Homo sapiens: one gene and its partner. The main gene of each other region encodes a partner of the protein of the gene in region 2 in a complex. Each region holds a gene or a part of one and is shown on either strand. Other genes may lie near its edges.

What was found.
Region 1: the proteins of NOX5 (region 2) and CALM2 are in contact, whole or in part, in a crystal structure (PDB 6SZ5), measured with the Homo sapiens proteins. Residues at the interface, in NP_078781.3 of Homo sapiens: Trp720, Ser721, Val723, Phe724, Val727; in NP_001734.1 of Homo sapiens: Glu12, Phe13, Ala16, Phe20, Leu33, Met52, Glu55, Val56, Phe69, Met72, Met73, Lys76, Met77, Thr80.

The regions. Positions count from the first base shown.
Region 1 is NC_000002.12:47,165,839-47,175,178, forward strand, and holds part of CALM2 (calmodulin-2), read right to left. Parts: intron 8,370-9,340; exon of another isoform or gene 6,622-8,369; coding exon of another isoform or gene 6,576-6,621; exon of another isoform or gene 4,927-6,575; coding exon 4,896-4,926; intron 1-4,895. UniProt on the Homo sapiens protein: Calmodulin acts as part of a calcium signal transduction pathway by mediating the control of a large number of enzymes, ion channels, aquaporins and other proteins through calcium-binding. Calcium-binding is required for the activation of calmodulin.
Region 2 is NC_000015.10:69,008,525-69,020,379, reverse strand, and holds the start of NOX5 (NADPH oxidase 5), read right to left. Parts: upstream 5,686-11,855; 5' UTR 5,645-5,685; coding exon 5,595-5,644; intron 1-5,594. UniProt on the Homo sapiens protein: Calcium-dependent NADPH oxidase that catalyzes the generation of superoxide from molecular oxygen utilizing NADPH as an electron donor. May play a role in cell growth and apoptosis.

The DNA of each region.
Region 1 (9,340 bases), on a different chromosome or scaffold from region 2:
AGAGCCACTTTTAACTCTTTCAGTCTGAAATCTGTCAACAGGTCTCGAATTCTATCATTTAAATACTGCCTGATTTTTCCTCCATCTCTACAACCAGTATTTTGGTTCAAGGCTCCATCGTCCTTTGCCAGGGCTATTACAATTGCCTCCTAACTGCATTCTTTCTTATTTAAATATTACTGGTTTATAGAGGAACTCATCTAATACCAATCAGAAGGTTCATACCACACTAATTGATTTTATGAAGATAGTATACAGTGCTAACCTAGATCAACCTAATGACAAAAATAGATCAGGGAGTCTCCACCTACAAATAGCACAATTGATAAAGACATTTCAATTTTACTGTTTTTAAACAGAATGTAGAAATATCTAGAAATACATATATTGGAGTTCAGACACATTGCACCTTTCACCTAATTTAGGTTACAAGAAAATTAAAGGACTTTGAGGTATTTGTTTATATTACATTCTCTGCTATGGGTATCTTTTAACACCACCATTAGGTGCATAAATTCCCAATGTTTAATTAGCAGTAATCACCTTTCTATTACATGATTTAACAAAAAGCTAAATACTGGAAGATGCATAGTGTAAGACTATGTATAACTTTCGAGAAATTTAAAAATCTAATAACACTTAAAATGTTTGCTAGAATAAGTAAAATGCAGAAAATAAAACCGTATCTATGCTAATACCATTTGTTATTCATTCAAGAAAGGAACAAATAACATTTCTTTTAAAGGTCAAGGTTTATTCCAAATTTTTACTTGTATTTTTATACTAAAGAGTAAAAAATACCTGTAAAAACTCAAAATAATAAACCCCAAAGTAAAATTTTAATTCACCTGCCTTTACAGTTTTCCTGTACTTCAGAACTAGCGTAATCTTTATGTATAGAAGCATATAATTCTAAACTGTAACTCCCAGGAATGACCTGAAATTAAATCCAAGAGTCAAAACCTAAACACACAATAAAGAGAACAGGTCCTGAATGCCACAGAACAGCTATCTTCTACATAATTGATAGATATAAGGAACCTACCAAAATCCATTTTAGCTGACCAAACTGAAACTTTCAGAAAAATCTATTACTCAAGTTTTATTTGTTCATTAGCAACCCCAAGGCCCTTCCCTAATTAGTTTATTACCTAAACATATAATTTTATTAAAATAACATGTTTTAAAAATTTTATTAAAATAGGTTATCACAAGACAATTACAAAACAAATCAAATGACTGTTTATTAACTTCTATTTCTTCACAAAATTCTGAACTTAATAATCCCTTAAAGATCATGTACTGGAACTCTTTTGGCGCTTCATGCAGTTGTTGCTATACATTGAGTAATATTAATATTTTTCTCAAACAAATTTGGACCTTGAAAATTTAATGAAAGTTTAGGTACAGACTTCTTAAGGAAAAAATACTGTACATTTTTCCTATCAGTCTTCCAAAAGTCAAACAGCAACAACTAATGACATCATGGCAGAGTTATCAACAAAATGAAATTGTTAGTGATGTCATACTAGACTGGAATGCTTTATACGACCAAGTAATATAAAAAATTTTAGGCCGGGAGCAGTGGCTCATGCCTGTAATCCCAACACTTTGGGAGGTCAAGGTAAGCGGATCACCTGACGTCAGCAGTTCAAGACCAGCCTGGCCAACATGGTGAAACCCCATCTCTCCTAAAAATACAAAAACTAGCCGGGTGTGGTGGTGCACGCCTGTAATCCCAGCTACTTGGGAGACTGAGCCAGGAGAATTGCTTGAAGTTGGACAGCAAAGGTTGCAGTGAGCCAAGATCATGCTACTGCACTCCAGCCTGGGCAAGAGAGTGAAGCTCCGTCTCAAAAAAAAAAAAAAAAAAAAAAAAAAAAAAAAAAATTTAGTAACTTCATCTACACAAGGATGTTAGCGGTCACCAGCACTTACAACTAAAAAAAAAAAAAAAAAAATTTTTTTTTCTTTTCTTTGAGACAGGGTCTTGCTGTGTTGCCCAGACTGGTCTTGAACTCCTGGGCTCAAGCAATCCCACTGCCTCAGCCTCCCAAAGTGTTGGGATTAGACATGCGCCACCATGCCCAGCCACCAACAATTACAATTTACCAGATTAAAAAATTGCCTTCATCTCAAAGGTAAACACTGAAATATACCAAATTTGGGAGGAAGGGACTTGGAGAGTAGGCAGAAATCTTAGGATAGTAGTGCTCTAGAACTTTTTTGTGTTACACACTCATTGAGAATAAAATTTATTCAAGGAATATTCAATGATTACTATGTGGCAGGTACCGGGCCTACAAAGTAGAACAAAAAGGTCCCTGACCGCACATGATTTTTATTTTAGTAGCATAGAAGTTTTGGTTCCTCTGCCCTAAATCTTAACTGAAACCTGGAGGTCCAAGGAATGGCTTTAAAGAAATCTGTGGTCTAGGAAAAGGCAGGATAAGAAGAGAACCTAAGAACAGATTTTTTTCCCTCTACTCCCATTGGAAACCTAATTTTATGATGAAAGCCAAGAAAAGATAGGATTTAACTTAAAGACAATAAAGAGAACAGGTCCTGAATGTCACAGTTTTGATGAACTACAAGTATTCTTTATAAGAATTCTACCAGGCCAGGCATGGTGATTCACACCTGTAATCCCAGCACTTTAGGAGGCTGAGGCGGGTGGATCACCTGAGGTTGCGAGTTTGAGACCAGCCTGACCAACATGGAGAAACCCCATCTCTACTAAAAATACAAAAATAGCCAGGTGGTGCATGCCTCTAATCCCAGCTACTCGGGAGACTGAAGCAGAACAGCTTGAACCCGGGAGACAGAAGTTGAGCCACTGCACTCCAGCCTGGGCAACAAGAGTGAAACTGTCTCAAAATAAATTAAAAAATAAAAATGCTATCAATCACTGAAGAGGGATCCTCTTATATTCAATAGACACAAACTTTTTTTTTTTTGAGGCAAAGTCTCGCTCTGTTGCCCAGGCTGGAGTGCAGTGGCATGATCTTGCCTCACTGCAACCTCTGCCTCCCAGGTTCAAGTGATTCTCCTGCATCAGCCTCCTGAGTGGCTGGGATTACAGGTGCACGCCACCATGCCTGGCTAATTTTTGTATTTTTAGGAGAGATGGGGTTTCACCACGTTGGCCAGGCTGGTCATGAACTCCTGACCTCAAGTGATCCGCCTCGGCCTCCCAAAGTGCTGGAATTACAGGCGTGAGCCACTGCGCCCGGCCAACAAACTTTCTTTTCAAAGAGTTGTTTAAGAGAGCAGACCATCAACTATGCAATGGCACACTGAGTAACGTTTTCTACCCTAAAGTGAACATGCTGTACTGCATACAGTTGGTACCTGTACCTGACTGGGAATATTAAGAAATGTATTACAGAAGGTCAGAGTTTAAGAGTGAAAGTATTAGACAGCCTGAGACAATTTGGGAAGGAGACAGTATATTTATAAAAAAAACTACTTCAGAAAAACATTTTGACGATACATTTACTTTGTAGAGATGGGGTCTCACTATGTTGCCCAGGCTGGTCTCAAACTCCTGGGCTCAAGTGATCCTGCTGCCTCAGCCTCCCAAAGTGATAAGATTACCAGCCATCAGGCCCAGTCTATTTTTTTTGAGGAGACATGAGATCAAATAGGTGATACCTTTAAAACAGTGTAACTCAACAAAAAAAAAATTATTCCCAAAACTGTTTGCTTTTTGTTCATAACAGTCAATACATGTAATTTACCAACCTCAGAAAGTAAAAACTAAGTTTAAGTCAAATTACACAATAAATAAAAATAAAACCTGCTTAAATTTGTCTTTAATACTAATAGCTTTCTACCTACAGTCCTATCAAATAGTATTTGAGGTGACTAGTGTAATTCTGGTATCCCCCAAACTTCTATATGCTTATGGAAGTGGGGAGCTTGCTTTAAATGGGCTATATAGTTCCAACTGGGCTTCTCAGTTTTCTCCAGCCTAAGAAAAAGTGCTCAAGTGCTTTTGAGCTCTTATCAAACCCTTCCTGCTTACTGTGAAAACTGTGGCAAATAAACTGCTTGGTGCTCATGCTAATAAAAGTGTCTAATGAAAACAAAGGAATAGTTTGCAAAGCATTTCAACACTACAATAAAAAAAAAAAACAACTCCGGCAAGGGGGGAAAAAAAAGTTTCCCCAACATTGACATTAACCAGCCATCTCAATGTACAAGGATAAATCAAAAGTATTAATGTTCTATGGCATGGCATAAAGAGAACATGACATCAGGTTTTATGTAATAATTTTGCATACTTCCATAGCAAACTAAAAGGGACAAGATTTAAGCGGCTTCATTTCAACAGCTGTCACTGTTTTTTAAGAGAAAAATCCACATTGCTACAGTGACATTTATAGAATAGAATGCCAACTTCTTAAATTTTTTCACTTGAGAAATGGTTATTCCCTGACTGATTATATATGCAATTCTTAGGTTAAAATGTTAGCTAATTTTAACTAGGGTAAATTCAATTGTTCCTTTTTTGATTCTCCATTTCAAGTTGCCTTAGTTACTTCTTGGCCTCCTTTTCTAGCGTGTTAGCTAGCCCAGAATTCCTGTTTTATACTAAGGTAGTCTTCAGAAAACAAAACAAAGACCACCACTACACCACAAGGCTCCAAAGTATATCCACGCAGACTAAAATACATGTCTTTAACTACAATTAGCCCTGCACATCTTCCATCGGCAAGTTTACAATCCCACTTGCCAAAGCAGGTTGAATTACTGTATTATATTATACCCATATGTTAGTATCCATGACATATACCAAAGTCAATTATTTCATACAAGTCTCTTATTCTGACGTTGGCTATTCAATTTATAATAAGAATCTAATGGGTACAATCTAGCTGAGTATTTCTCACCTGCAATCTGCTCTTCAGTCAGTTGGTCAGCCTACAAAGAGATCAAAGAGGAAGGTTAGTGACTTGAGAGTATGTAGATTAGCAGTTACAGAAACAAGTTTAAAACCTTTCAAGGGTTACCATGTACTGTTTCATTTAGTTCCAGCAACAAACACATCTGGATAGAAAATGCACACATCTAGTTTCTCTTATCTTCAAAGCTAAGCTGTCTTAACTCCAAGTTTAAGATATACAAATACTTCAGAATATTTTTGAAAATATACTTTAGAATCCAATAGAAACATTGCTTCCTTTTTCAACGTTAGAATAGCTAAACTTAAGCTCACTTCTATTCCAGATATAAATCACCAGAAATTCCCACTGAATCAAAATGCTTCAGGCTCACAAAATGAAAATTACTCCCACAAATGGTTAAACACATTGTTTTGAAATTAAAGTGATTAAAAAAAAAAAAAGGCACAAACTTTTATTCCTTCTCACCCAGCAGGCAAAATGCAAAGAATCCAGAGCTCTGAACTACAGTACTATAATATTTACCAAATGTTTGAAAGTTCAGCCATCCATTTTCTCTTGGTTTTTAAAATCCCAAAGTAAGCCCAAGGCTTGTGATGTTTTTTTAATAGCACTTGGTTTTCTTCAGAAAATATTTTCTGCCATTTGCTAAAACCCATTATAAATTTTATCCTTATTCAATCTTAATAATAACCTTACAGTGGTATTATCCCCTATCTTACAGATAAGGAATGAGGCTAGGGTTAAGTGGGATTGGGGCACAGAAAATTAGTAGAACAAAGATAAAGCACTAAGGTGTCAGACATACCCAGTAACTTTTAGCTTTTAATTCAGAGCACCGTAATATATAAAGATGATTGCAAAATATCCAGACTCCTTGTTGTATTCTTTGAACATGCACTTTCTTTCACTGCTTATTAGTATATACATCCATGAAGCAACTGCTTATGGGGTATTGAGAAGCACAGACAAGAAATAGCCTCCTATCTAAAATCCCTACCAACATGGGAGTCAAGTATACAATGATTAATCCATTCATTTATTTATAGGTAAAAGAAAAATAAACATTGCCTGGCTTCATTCTTTTTAAATGAACACACCCCTGGAAAAAGTAACACCTTAATGTGGAACACATTTTCTCTAGGGCACATGAGAAAATTCAAGAAGGAATCCAGAAAGCAGTTTATTTTCCCTGCTCAACAATTTTTGTTTGACCATGATGTAAATCAAATTCATTAAAAAAAAAAAAAAAAAAAAAAGCTGGTAACGTAAAATTGAAGAGCCAATAATTAAGTTCAAATACAGAGTTTGTAAAATAAAAAATGTATCCACTTTTATCCCTAAAGTCCAAATCCTCCGCCAACAAATATTTGGTGTGAAGTCAGTCACAGATTGTTTACCCAAGGAATAAGGTTTAAAATCCAGTAAATCTGAGTTATTTACTTTGTATTAATAGAAGCTACATTACTTCAGTTTATTGCATTTTGCAGGACTTCCACCATTTCTGAAAGGAAGGGCAACCTGGCATGCGTGGCGTGGGGGGAAAGCATCAAGTTCTGAGTCACAGGCCAGTATCCCAGCCCTGCCATTTAATAGCTGTGTGACCTTGGACGTGGTACTCCTCCTCTCAGTCAACTTCATTTGTAGCACAAGAATAACAATACTTACCTTGCAGGGTTGTTGTGCAAAGTGAGATGCTATGTACAAAGCTAACCTAAAGAGTTAAATGATAACCATTATTTCATATAAATTAACAAAGAACCTACAATGTTAAATATCAACCTGACTAGCTCAATTTCCACACCGAATGTAGACATGCATGGCATTTATTAAGCCCTTTATGGTAAGCTTACTCTATTCAATGTTAACTTTGTTTAAGCTGAGAAAATTTATGCAAACTAAATCCACAAGGTGCAACCCAGCGACAGATGCAGCGGACATCACTTTAAGGCTAAAAAAAAGTTGAGCTAAATGTGTGGCAGACACTGCAGCCTGTGTGAAAGTTGAAGGATCCCGTACTCTGTACAGGAAGGGAGACAGGTTCGTTCTCTCTACATGGGTTGGGGGGGGGGGGGGGGTGGGAAATGGGACTTTGGGAAGGCTACTATATATGAAACATGAGAAGCCTTAGGAAGAAACGAGGATGTTAGCAATTTAGGAACCACTGTCCAATTTTGCTTGGAAAGTCAAAATTTAGGGACCTCATACCATCTTGTCTAACTCCCTACCTCCAAGCAAATGCAATCTTGGAAGAGATCACAAAAATGAGCTTCAAGGAATGAATTAAGCACCCAAGAGACCAAATTACTCACATAACCTGAAAGCTCTCAATTTTGCTTGGAAGGTTGAGAAGCTTTTTGTATTACTTATCCAGAGTTCAGGTTTTAGAATAAACTTTTACCAGCAATATCCAGATTAAAGCCTACTATAAATCAAGAAGACTTCCTAGCACTAACTTTCCCAACTGCTACAAAGGCGAATAAATTTGGTTCTTCCTTGTTTCCAGGGAGTGCCATTTTCTTAGAAGAACCAGAAGAATTATACTTTTGGGAAAACTCAAGCTCATTAACATGTATGTTTATCTCAGTAAAGTGAAGAAGAATTCACTAGAGAGATGACTTGTTCTTACTCCCTTATTTCTGTAGCTATTGACATAATTCTTCCCACTGCTCTTGCCACTCCAGAGAAAGTTCCTAGGCATTAGTATACTCTCAGGTTCCTCCCTAGACCTCCTGTACTAGAATGTTCATTTTGGAGAACCATAGGTGATCTGTCAACACTAAGGAGCACGACCCCGTATTACATTAGTGACCTGAAGTGAATACATTATGTACCTATCAAACATTTCCTACATGCCATTCAAAAGTATGCATGAATACTGTTGGAGTTTATCTAGTGAAAGGTGGTGTTCTTATCTGAATAAATGTGTGAGCCCATAGGCTTGAAATGGAACGCAAACTGCTATCCTTCATCCATTCCTGTCTGTTCATTCCCATCAGGTGCTACTTTGATACAACAAGGATTCCTATATGAAGTTTTTTCTACAATTATGGAAGCCAGGATATTTGTTTTACCTGTATCAAAAGCAATCTAAATTATTTCATTAGGGTAAAAAGACACCTAATTCTGAAGAATAGTACTTACATAGCATCTCTCACCAAAAGATCACTGGAACAAAATGGCTTCATAAAAATTAGGGCTATTACTAAAGGCCTAAATTCTAGCTGAAGCTAGAGCTTTCTATATTTTAAAAGAGCCAAATCCTTTGATCTTCTGAGCCTAACAGAAACAGGCGTTGGCACTTATAAGAACAATTATTTAGACTCAAGTGACAAAAATTTTCTACCTTTTTACATCTTTTACTTACCTAATCACCCTGCACTCAAAGTCCTCTTGAAGCAATCCCGTTTTCAATGAGCATATGTTGATTACATGTAAACTCAAGAGTTACATGAGCAATCTTACTTTACTTCCGTATAAAATTTTTTATACTTTAACTTGGGGTCCTAATTTTTTTTATTTTTTGAGAGACAGGGTCTCACTCTGTTGCCCAGGGAGTGCAGTGGTGTGATCATAGCTCACTACAGTCTCCAACTCCCGGGCCCAAGATGATCCTCCTGCCTCAGCCCATTGACTAGCCAGGACTACACGCACAGGCCATTATGTCCGGCTAATTTTTTTTAATTGGATTCCTAATGTAAAATCTCAGTCCTCTAATTATAAAGTTATGTGAAGGCAATTTTCAAATTTACTGTATCTGTCACAAATAATGATATCTGTCAATTTTTATTAAGATTTTTTTTTTCGACTTTGTCTCTTATAGTAAGAGCTGTCAATTTAACAGAAAACCCCCAAAGCACCAGTGATGCAAACAGTAACTACAAAAGCTTAACACTGGGCAAGGGACCACAAATGCGTAGATACCAACTCTACCAAGAAAAAATCTATTCGAATTACTGATTCAATTATCAAAACTGATTAAAGAAAACTTTACCCTTCGTTTATTTAAAAAAAAAAGCTTACTCCACAACTTGTAATGTTTATTACATATGCCTGTAACTACATCTTTAAGAAAGCAAATGTAACCAGCACATTCAAATTCAGAATAACATTTGAAGCATCAAGATGAAGCAAATCCATCAAACGTCAATGAACGCTAGTTTTATTTAAGGTGAAATCGTCTCCCCACACCCATACAGGCTGGAGGTTTCAGTTGGCAAGGATCCCTAACTCCTGTTTAAGATGTCACCTTGCCTCCTGGACACACCCATCGCTGTAACCACTTGGCAGGAGGAACCACAAAGTAAGTATCACAGATCACCGCCCTCATTAGGTGTTTTTTTTTTTTTTTTTCAGGAAAGAACATGATCTCCCAGTCTGAGGTGACCGGAAAATGCTTTTAAAAATTCCCTGCTCCTCCCCCGCATACACTC
Region 2 (11,855 bases):
GAAATTTGTATCATCTTTAAGTAGGGGCACAAGATAGGGATCCCAAAAACATTAAGGAAAATGATCTGTAGATCTGCATATGTAAAAATTAATTTCTGCATGACAGAAGACAACAAATTCAAAAGGCAATAGGCTGAAGGAAAATATTTGCAATAAGCATGATGGAATGGTCACACCTGTTATAAAATAACAACAACTAAAAGGGCAACAATAACAGTAAATGCTTTTATTAGGTATTGATAAATTGCAGCTGTGTTAGTGTTCTTTTAACATAGAAGTCCTATAGGTTTGACAGAAGCAAAAACAAACAAACAGAAACCAGCAATGGAAAGTAGCAAAAGATATAAAAGGACAATTCATAAGAGAGAACTTATATTGGTTGATAAACATTTGAAAAGATGTTCAATTCACTTCTCATGCCTGGGGAAATGGGATTTATAACAATTATATCTTTTGTAGTTGGGGGAAGTGGTATCAGAATGCCAAAAATCAAAAGATTGGTAATATCCAATATAAACAGTGCTGGTGAGAACATGAATTGTACTATCTTTCAGGCAATTCAATTTTTAGGAATGTATCCTACAAAAATAAAAGTGTTACTGCATAATGGCCCATATCCATCATCCACCACTGTGTACTAGATTGCCATTCAAAACAGCTAAGCCCGCCCACGTTATCTATAATAGGTGTGAATTGATTTGAATAAATACAGTAGCACTGTGTGGAAGGGAATCATCAGGCTGTCAGCACTGGTCCTTAAAGAGGCAGGACTGGAGGGGAGAAAGAGGATTTCAGTTCTGTATTGCTTTACGCCTCAGTATGATTGATCTGATGGTATCCATGAGCATACACCATTCTTGTGATAATCTTTGAAAACTCTTCATTTTGAGATAATTATGGATTCACATACAGGTATGAGCCATAATGTAGAGATTTCTTTATTCCGTTTCTCCCAATTGTAATATCTCACAAAATTGTAGTACAATATCACAAAGAGGATACTGACATTGATAGAGTCAAGATACAGAACTTTCCACCACAAGACTCTCTCAAGTTGCCGGTTCACAGCCACACCTACATCCCTCCCTGCCCCCTTCCATGGCAGGTGGGCAGTGGGCAAAGTCCTGACTCTCCACTGGGCCTCCTCTGACCATCCCAGTCGGGAGGAGGAGGGAGTACCTCGTTACTGCCGGGTATGACAATTAAAAAGCAAGCAAGGCCGGGGGTGGTGGCTCATGCCTGTAATCCTAATACACTGGGAGGCTGAGGCAGGAGGACTGCTTGAGTTAAGGAGTTTGAGACCAGCCTGCGCAACATAGTGAAACCTCATCTCTACAAAAATTTAAAAAATTAGCCAGGCATGATAGCATGCACCTGTGATCCCAGCTACTCTAGCAGCTGAGGTGGGAGGATGGCTTGAGCCTAGAAGGTCGAAGCTAAAGTGAACTTTAATCACACCATTGCACTCCAGCCTGGGCAACAGAGAACCCATCCCTTATAACATAATAAAATATAAAATAGAATAGAATAGAGCAAACAAAAAATCCCTCTCCATCCCCTGACCTTTAATCCTGTGCCATCAGTGAGCTCTGGCCCGGGATGTGGCTCCCCAGGGCAGCTTCTCCAAAAGGTGATATCAAGGGTGTTACTGGCCTCTTATCCCCCAGCAAATTAATACCTTAGTAAAACAAACATTTTACACGGCACAACCTCATCCCAGAACACACCTGTGAGGCAAGTGGCTCAACAGGTACAGCCCACTGATCAGATGAGAATCCGCCCTCTGAAGCACGGTTCCCAGCTTTGGGCGTCCAGTAACACAAAAGAGTCTTGTGGGGGTGGGGGTGGGGGTGGTCCTCACTTGGTGGGAGAGGTGCACTGTCAGCATCTCCCTAGGTTGTGTCCCAGCTAACTGTAATTCCCTATCAGAGCAGCGTTTTCTAGGTTAAAATAAGGGCTTATGGAGACCAAGCTTTCATCATTCAGGTAAAGCCTCCACGTAGCAGGCTTCAAAGACAACAGAGTGTAAATGTTTCTTATCAGACTTAAAGAGTCTGTTGCTGGCTCACACCAACTCCGCCAGCTGCCTCTCACCTGCCTGAGCAAGTACCCGGTCCCCAGGCCTGGCCCTGCAGCCTCCTTGCCCATTCTCCCTGCCAATCCCTAGGAATCCCACCTGCTGCTTGTTCCTCTTTCTCTGAAACCCAAATGGGAGTTGGAGTTTCCCTAGGATGCCTGAGCAACCGGCGCCTCTGGGGCTCCATGAGTGCGGTCCGGTCCATGGACCGCCCACAATTGCATCATCTCAAGAGTTGAAAGTGCACATTCTCTGCAGCCCCAGATCTTCAGGACCAGAAGCTCTGAGGTTTGGGCCCTGGGAGTGTGAATTCTAGCAAGCATTCTCAGAGCCGCTGGTATTACTGAGTGAAAAGAAACCCTCAGACAGCACTTCCATGGTTTTCTAAAGTGCCTCGTGCCTGCTGGGTGATCCTGTGCCAGTTATTTGACCTCTGTTTCTCTGTTTGACCTCTTTATAGGCATGTGTCTTATGCTATATATGTGTGGCATGTATTTGAGTGTGTGTGTGTGTGTGTGTGTGTGTGTATAAAATATATCAACAAAGAGTCAAACTATAAAATACTTGAAGATACTTACTCTGAGCCAAATACGAGTGACCAATGGCCTGTGACACAGCCCTCAAGCTATCCTGAGAACATATACCCAAGGCTGTTGGGTCACAACTTGGTTTTGTACATTTTAGCAAGACATAAAACATCAATCAATACATGTAAGTTGTACATTGGTTCTGTCCGGAAAGGTGGGACAGCTGGAAGCAGGGGCTTCCGGGTCGTAGGTAGATTCAAAGATTTTTCTGATTGGCAATTGGTTAAAAGAATTAAGTTTTTGTCTAAAGACTTAGGAACGTCTGGCCGGCCGCAGTGGCTCATGCCTGTAATCCCAGTACTTTGGGGGGCCGAGGCAGATGGATCACTTGAGGTCAGGAGTTCGAGACCAGCCTGTTCAACATGGCAAAACCCCATTTCTACTAAAAATACAAAAATTAGCCTGGTGTGGTGGCATGCACCTGTAATCCCAACTACTTGGGAGGCTGAGGCATGAGAACTGCTTGAGCCCAGGAGGTGGAGGTTGTAGTGAGCCAAGATCACGCCACTGCACTCCAGCCTGGGTGACAGAGTGAGGCTCTGTCTCAGAAAATAAATAAATAAATAAATAAATAAATACTTAGAAATTTCTATGTTAAAATAAGGGGTTATGGAGACCAAGGTTTCGTCATTCAGGTAAAGCCTCCAGGTAGCAGGCTTCAAAGACAATAGAGTATAAATGTTTCTCATCAGACTTAAAGGGTCTGTTCTATCAGTAATCCCACAAGGGAGGAGAGTATAATGAGGCATGTCTGGTCCCTCCTTCCCATGATGGCCTGAACTAGTTTTTCAGGCTAACTTTGGAATGCCCTTTGCTGAGAGGAGGGGTCCATTCAGATGGCTGAGGGGATTAGATTTTTATTTTTGGTTTACAAATATATGTTTTAGTGTGTGTATGTATGTATGTATATATATATATGCATATGTCATATATGCTTTAGTGTGTGTGTGTATGTGTGTGTGTGCATGCATGCTTCAGTTTCCTCATTTATTAAAAGCGTTAGTGATAGCTCACCTTGCAGAGTTGTGACAGGGCATAGGATGTCTGTCTAGCACATGATGATTAGGTATGTACACCTTTCTCTTCTCTTTTTCATGCCTATTAACTCACGTCACTTTCCAAGTCAGCAAGTCCTAGATGGATTCCCATTTCCCACAGGGAGCACAGACAGATGTCCTCTCAGGGCCCCTGCATTGACTTGGGGCAGAGCCAGGCCTAAGTCCCAGGCTTCAGACTCCTCAGGTTCTTCTTGCGGACCACCTGTCTAGGTTCTCACTCTCTCCTCGCCTATAAATGTGTGGTCCTAGTAAGTCACTGGAGCTGCAGGCAGCAAGGAGGGTGCTCCAGGCAGCCCCTGCCAGAGGCCAGTCCAAAGCTCCCAGGGCCCAACTCACTGTGGAGGAGGGGGGTGAGATGAGGCATGGAGAGAACCTGTAGCTGGGAGTGTCAAGGGCCAGGGCAATGCCCCCACCCAGCCTCCCACTGAGATAGGCCAGCTCCTGCACGCTCCCAAGGCAGGGGCTCCAGGCCCTCCAGTGTGCCAGCCACTTTATTTAGTATATTGGCCCCTTCTGTCTTTGGTGCAGCCCAGTGAGGTAGGTATTATTACTATCCCTGTGTACCAGAAGCAGCCCACAGCTGGAAAAGAGGAAGAGAGCTTCGCATCAGACCTTCTCATCCCTCGTGGCTTCAACATCAGCCAAGGAGCCTCTTTTAAGAGCTTCCTAGGTTTTTTCACACCAGCCCCAGAGAACCACTGTCCTGGGCCCAGCCCCACACACTTCTCCCCACCCCCGACCCAACAATGACTCTGCTTCGACCTTCACTGATGGGCGTTCACTGCCTGTGCAGACTCCAAGCTTCGAGTGCCTGCTTCTCATGTCCCTGAGCTGAAGCCGCCTTCCCATCACTGCCCCCCCAAAGACATTCACACCTCCCACTGACTTATAGCCACCCTTTGGTGGTTTCAAGGCAGCCCTCCACGGCCCAAAAGAGCACTCACCTAATGACTAGTGGTTCCCAAACTGCAATATGTTCTTGCCAGAAACATGAGAGTTTGTAAAAATGTGCATTCTGACTCGCCAACCTTGGTGGGGAGGAGGCAGGAATCTGCACATTTCACCTGCACCCCGGATCTTGTGACCCACGCATGGGTGACCCACCCATGCACCTGGAGAAATGCTGCCCTAGGGGTTAAACAGCCTCCACTTTCTTCATCTCTCGGGACCCTCGGGAAGGCATTCCACAAAGCAGAGAGAATTCTGGAAAAAGGGCTGCATGCAAGTGCTAACGCAGGGAAGGCAGGGAGGAGGTATCTGCTGTTCACCTCCCACTTTTCAGAAACAAGATCAGTGTGGTGGGCCTGTGCAAGGGGAGAGGTAACTCTGGGAAGGGGCTGAGAAGAGACTGGGACAGCCAGAGTGATCTAGGTGGTGAGGGAATAGGGTGGGAAGGAAGGTAACACTGTAGGTAGCAGGAAGGAGCGGGAATCTTCAGATTTCAGAGCTCAAGGGGAACAATGTGCTCACCAGAGGCCAGAATTTACCCCAGGAGACCAGGATTTTAGGTCCAGCCTTGCTTTGCACCAGCTGAATGACCAGCCCACAAGCATCTCTCCAACAAAGGGCTATGAGGACCAAATGAGATGCTGTTTGGAAAAGTACAACTGGAAAGCATTGTACAAATGCTGGGTATTGCTATTACACTGACTTGGCCAGTTCTTTATTTTACAGATGAGAAAACAGACCCAGAGAGGGCTGGTGACTTATCCAAGATTGCCCAGCTTGCTAGTAGCAAGGCAAGAATAGAGCTCAGATCTTCTGATTTCTGCCCAAGGCAGACACAGTTACCTTTTGTAGATCCCACAAAGGCAAATAATCCCACCTTTCCCTTGTCCCTGGCATGGAAAGCTGGACAAATGAGCCACTCACCCTCTACAGCCTTCAGGGCCCGTCTGGGCTGGGTCTCCAGATGTGTTCATCTTCTCCTGTCTTCTAGATCACAGGTCCCAGAAAGACTGCTGTCCATTGAGCTGCCTGCACTGTGTAGCCACCCCCCTGACTCCTCCTCTTCCTGACTCCTAAAGACCTGCTCACACCCACAGTCCCTCATAAAACTGGTGGCTGAGTTGGTCTAGAAAAATCCCAACCAGGAAGCATGGAATGCAATGGGGCAAGAGTTTTATTAGGAAGGATGAGCTGTCTTCCATCTGGCCCAGTATCTTCTCTTTCCTTTCCTCAAAAATACTATGGTGAAGCTAGGTTATCTAGGAACATACTGTGAAAAAAATCACCAACAACTCCAGGCAGGCCCTGCTTATAAGTCAAGCAAGACTTCGCCAATAACAATAATATCAATTATCAACAAAAATGTTTAAGCACTTACTCTGAGCCATGCACTGTGCTAAGAACTTTGCACGTATTGCTCAGTTTAATTCGTAACACAGCCCTATCTGGTGGGTGTTGGCATCATTCTATTGATTAGGGAAGTGAAACAGAGAGGTGAAGTAATGTGTCCAGTGGGCTCAGCACAAATTTTACAACTACATTGGGCTGACTGTGGAGATTGTATAGTTAACCACCCATGGAGCTATACTCAGTCTCAACATATTGTGTACAACTATATTGAAACAGTCACCTGCAGAGGTTCCTAGCCCATAGAGCCTAGGGAAAAAAGTGGGACCTGCAAGCTATTTTGTTTTAAACTTAAGGGAAATTGTATAATTACTTAGGTAATACTGCTCTGCGATTAAAATTCAAAGTGTTTATACTTTTTGTTTTGCCTGGAAAGAGATCAGCTTTGGCTGATAACCCTGGCCATCTGGTGCAGATTGGGATGTCCTAGTGGTGATTTTAGATGTCTCTGGTTAATTTCCAAAATCAGGGAAATGATTAGTTATCATTATGGTTTTGTTTTAAAGCAGAGTGCTACAAGAAATTTCTCCCAGTATGTGGCTCATGGTGGGGGTACCCTAAAGGGATCCTTTGGTGCTGGCCATGTCAAGTCTTCTGAACCAGCAGGGGCTCACTGGAAGCCTCTTTGCTGTCACTCACATATTTTTCTACCCACAGATTCAGCCAGTTCTCATTTGTTTGGGGCCAGTCCCAAGACAAGTTCTACAGAATTTCAGTGATCTTTTGGTAATCTCTGGAAATGGGGTGCTCCCATGCCTGGAGAGCAGCAATTTTGGAGGCTACTTTGACTGTTTCAATAGTTTTCCTGGCAAAGTAAAGAGAGAAATACAAACACATTTCATTAAATCAGTTCAGGAATAATATGTAGGAAACAGAAAATTCTTTTGAGGAAATAAGCCAAGCAGTAAATATGAATTATACTTTCAAGTTATGGCCAGTTAAGGGAAAAAAGCAAGAATGAGAAGATGTGAGACAGAGCTGCCGGTACCCACTGTAATTGTAACTATCTGTGTGTGTCTCTTTCTGTCCCTCTGGACTGTGAGCCCCTAAAGGCAAGATCTGTGCCTCATTAGTTTTGAATCCCAGGAAACTAGCACAGTGCTCACTATATCATGGGCATTCCATGTATGTTTGTGGAATGAATAAACCTGCCTCAATTCAACAAATACTTAGGAAACACTATATCCAGGCCCTGATTGTATACACAGAGACAAGTAAGATAATCCAGCATGGTAAATGAAGATACAGAAGTGTGTTGTGAGACAGCATTGGGAAGGGAGAACCGAGGAGACTTCCCAGTGAAAGTGACTGATCTGTAGTGGGTTTTAGAACATGAGTAGGAGTTTGCCAGGTGGAAACGGAAAAGGACATTCTGGGCAGCTAGAAGATCGTGTAGAAAGGCATGAAATGAGAATGCATTCTGTGTCCTGGGAACTATAAGCAGTTCAGGTAATGACCTGGAGACGCACACATTTGAAAGCAGAACTGGAGCAGGGAGCAGGAGTCAGGTCATGACAAATTTGGCAGGAAGAGAGCTAAAGGCCTAGGATTACCTAGGAGCTAGGAAGCCAGTAAGCAATGCTAAGCAATGGAGCAACACATCAATACTTGCCAAAGTTCTGACAACAATCTAGTTCATATCCTAGTATCTGGACAAAATGCAAGTTTTTAAAGGGAAGTAATAAACATGAAAAAAAATTTTTTTTTTTTTTGAGACGAAGTCTCACTCTGTTGCCCAGGCTGGAGTGCAGTGGCATGATCTTGGCTTACTGCAACCTCCGTGTCCTGGACTCAAGTGATTTTCCTGCCTCAGCCTCCCTAGTAGCTGGGATTACAGGCATGCACCACCAGGCCCAGCCAATTTTTGTATTTTTAGTACAGGTGGGGTTTCACCATGTTGGGCAGACTGGTCTCGAACTCCTGACCTCAAGTGATACACCTGCTTCAGCCTCCCAAAGTGCTGGGACTACAGGTGTAAGCCACCGCACCTCGCCAGAAAATGTATTTTTAAAAGCGTCTTTTTTCTAACAAAACTTTTGGAAGGAGAGATTTTTTTCTCTCAATGACACTTTTTTATAATTACACAAATTATAAACATTAATTATTAGGCCAAGGTTTGTGGATCACTTGAGCTCAGGAATTCGAGACCAGCCTGGGCAACATGGCGAAAACCCATCTCCACCAAAAATACAAAAACATTAGCTGGGTGTGGTGGTGTGCACCTATAGTCCCAGCTACTCAGGAGGCTGAGATGGGAGGATCGCTTGAGCCCAGGAGGCAGAGGCTGCAGTGAGCCAAGATCACACCACTGCACTCCAGCCTGGGTGACAGAGTGAGACCCCATCTTGATTTTAAAAAATAATAATTATTATTATTTAAAAATTAGAAAAAAAGCCTAAAAGCACAAAAAAAGAGTAAAAATCGGTGTAATCCACTTGCCCAGATTAAAATCACTGCTAAAATGGAATGTTTGTTTATTTCCAGTTGCATGCAGAAGGTAGCCCAGCGTGGGATTCAGAGTGGGGTTGTGTCTGACAAGCTCACTTGCCTGAGCTAGTTTGCCTTGTTGAGGCCGATTTGCCACTAAGGAGGAAGTTGGATTGGGGGGCTTCAGATAGTTCCTGGGGAACAAGGGAGAGTGTGAGTCTCTTCTCCAGCTTTGCCCTGGAACTCTGATCTGAGACCCTGAAGAAAGAAGGTGGGGGGCTCTCCCTAATTTTGCAGGGAATTTGGTGTGGTTCTGGTATTATTTGGTTATTCAGGGGTCGTGAATTTTGGAGGCCCAGGGGAGAGCCCCTGCACTGGGAGGTGCTTTCCAAAGAGACACAAACTATGGGACAATGGAAGAAGAGATCCCCTCCAAAGGCTGTCAGAGTGACTGGATGTGAGTGGCCGGCTTGTGAGTGCCTGTGAGGTGCCTACCCAGGAAATAGCTGGGGAGAACTGACAGTTGGCTGAGGGAGCCTGAGACCCTGCAGTCAGCCAAAGGGGTACATCCATGCTAATGTCCCTTCCTTCACACCCACAAGCTGGAGCCAGAAAAGTAAGAAGTGGTCACTCGGGACTTCTGGTTGAGATGCATCAAGTTTACTCTGAGTTCACCCTTTGAGACCTCCCCATCTGTGCCATACACAAAGCGATGAGAGATAAAGTCTTTTTTTTTTTTTCAGATGGAGTTTGGCTCTTGTTGCCCAGGCTGGAGTGCAGTGGTGTGATCTCGACTCACTGCAACCTCCACTTCTGGGGTTCAAACGACCCTCCTGCCTCAGTCTCCCGAGTAGCTGGGATTACAGGTGCCTGCCACCACTCTCAGCTAATTCTTTGAATTTTTAGTAGAGATGGGGTTTCATCATATTGGCCAGGCTGGTCTCTAACTCCTGACCTCAGGTGATCCACCTGCCTTGGCCTCCCAAAGTGCTGGGATTACAGGTGTGAGCCACCGCGCCCGGTTTAAAAGACTGCCTGCTCTTGAAAAACAGATAAACATCTCTATTGACCAGAGATAAGGCAGAAATATGCAATGGCAAGTGAAACTGAAGCTACAGTTCTGCGCAGCTCCAAGTCCAGAGGCAAGTAGAGGCTGCTGCAGGTGAAGGGATGTGAACCCCTCATCTGAGGGTGCAGCTTGTGGCTGCAGTGAGTGCCAAGAATGAAGTACTCAGACAATTCCAGCTGAGCAGGGCGGGGAGCAGCTCCTCTGAGAGAGTGCCGCTCCAAGGTCTGTCCACCGAATATTTATTGAGAGAGCTTGTTTAAACTACAATTCAAACAAAAGGCATCCACCAGGCGGCTCTTTGCAGTTGGGCCATGAGGCACATATGGCCTTGGAAATACACATAGACCATAGTCTCAGGAGGCTGTTTTCAGCGCTCCTTACTACACATTCCTTTCCTTGCCCTGTTTTCAGGGTCAAGGAGTTTCAGTCGCATGCACAAACAACATGCACACAGTGCCTCGGTACTTTTCCATTCCTCGACCTCAAATGCCTTGTACATAAGCTTGAATATATTGCCATGCACCCTCCACAGAGGGGACCCTGCCTATGGCAGAGCACTGAAAAGAGCTAGGACTGGCCATTGTTGGGACAATGATTTATATCTTGTATCTAGGAGAGAAGAAGAAATTCACAAAGCCTGATAGTGAAGAAGTAGACTAGGCCAACTGCTCCTTGGTGATTGGACCCACAATAGCCTCAGGATTTCCATGGACAGGAGCCTTGAGACACCAATACAAAGCCAGAATTGAACTAGGGAGCCCAGGAAGTGGGGTGAAAGCTACCGCAAAACTTTTAGATGAGGACTGAACACTAACATGCACATGCCTCCACACACACATGCACGCATGCATACCCACACATGCACTCACACAATTACCATTCAAGGTGAACCAGTAAGCTGGCATTCCAAAAGATCTGAAAAAGAATATCAAGAATGCTAAGAAAGACAGCCAATCAAACCAAAAATAGGGAGAAGAACTCATACTTTAAGAAGTGAAAATCATAGACTTTAAGCATGTTTAGAATCCTCAAAAAAGAAAGGAAAGAAAAACATGCATTAAAAAAATAATAAGAACTTATAAGATGGGCAGCACTGAAGTGAAACAGCCAGTCACGAAAAGATATTGTATGATTCCAATTACATGAGGTACCTGGAGGAGTCAAATTCATAGACACAGAAAGTAGAATGGTGCTTACCAGAGGCCGAGGGAAGAGGGGAATGGGGAGTTACGGCTTAATCATACAGTTTCAGTTTTGCAAGACGAAAAAAGTTCTGAAGATAGATGGTAGTGATGGTTGCACAATGTATTAATACAACAAAACCAGGAAGTATTAACTTTCTGAAGCCTTTTGACATAGCCAAATAGCTTTCCAAGAATTCTGAAACAGCTGAAGGTGAAAAAAAAAAGAAACTATTCTGGCCGGGTGCAGTAGCTCATGCCTGTAATCCCAGCACTTTGGGAGGCTGAGGCAGGTGGATCACCTGAGGTCAGGAGTTTGAGACCAGCCTGGCCAACATGGTGAAACCCCATCTCTACTAAAAATACAAAAATTAGCCAGGCATGGTGGCATATGCCTGTAATCCCAGCTACTCGGGAGGCTGAGGCAGGAGAACTGCTTGAACCTGGGAAGCGGAAGTTGCAGTGAACCAAGATTGTGTCACTGCACTCCAGCCTGGGAGACAGAGCAAGACTCTGGCTCAGAAAAAAGCTATTCTGAATAAAGTGTTTATAAACGATATGTGCACAGGTGTAAAGTAGGCTCACTTCTTTTCCCGATCTATCCATGCTGAGTCCAGGGATAGAGAATGATTTCTATGCCCTATTTCTTAATGGACTCCACCCTAAACTCAGTAATTTTAGCTAACAACAGCTAAGTTTAAAAGATCACCTATTGAACTAAAATACATATTTCTGGCATTTAACTGGCTATCTGTAAACACTTTTATAGGAGAAATTTAAATCTATGAAGGAAATTTCCATTTGTAAAGGTGTCTGAGAGGGAGGCCTGGGTCACTAGAAACTGTTACCATTGTTTGAAATTTACATGACAGGTCTTTGTTACGGCGCCTATCCTGGCCATCTTGTCTTAACTGGGCCTTTACATGCAACCTTTTTTCCTTGGTTTAAGCAAATGATGGTACAATATTTAGGCCCAAACAGAGCTAAGAACAGGTCTTAGCTCTATTCTTTTGAGATATACATTTTCTACCTTGTTTAACCTGTTGAGTCATCTTTTTAAAAGGCAAATTGTTGCATAGCTAACAATTGCTTAGGGCAATA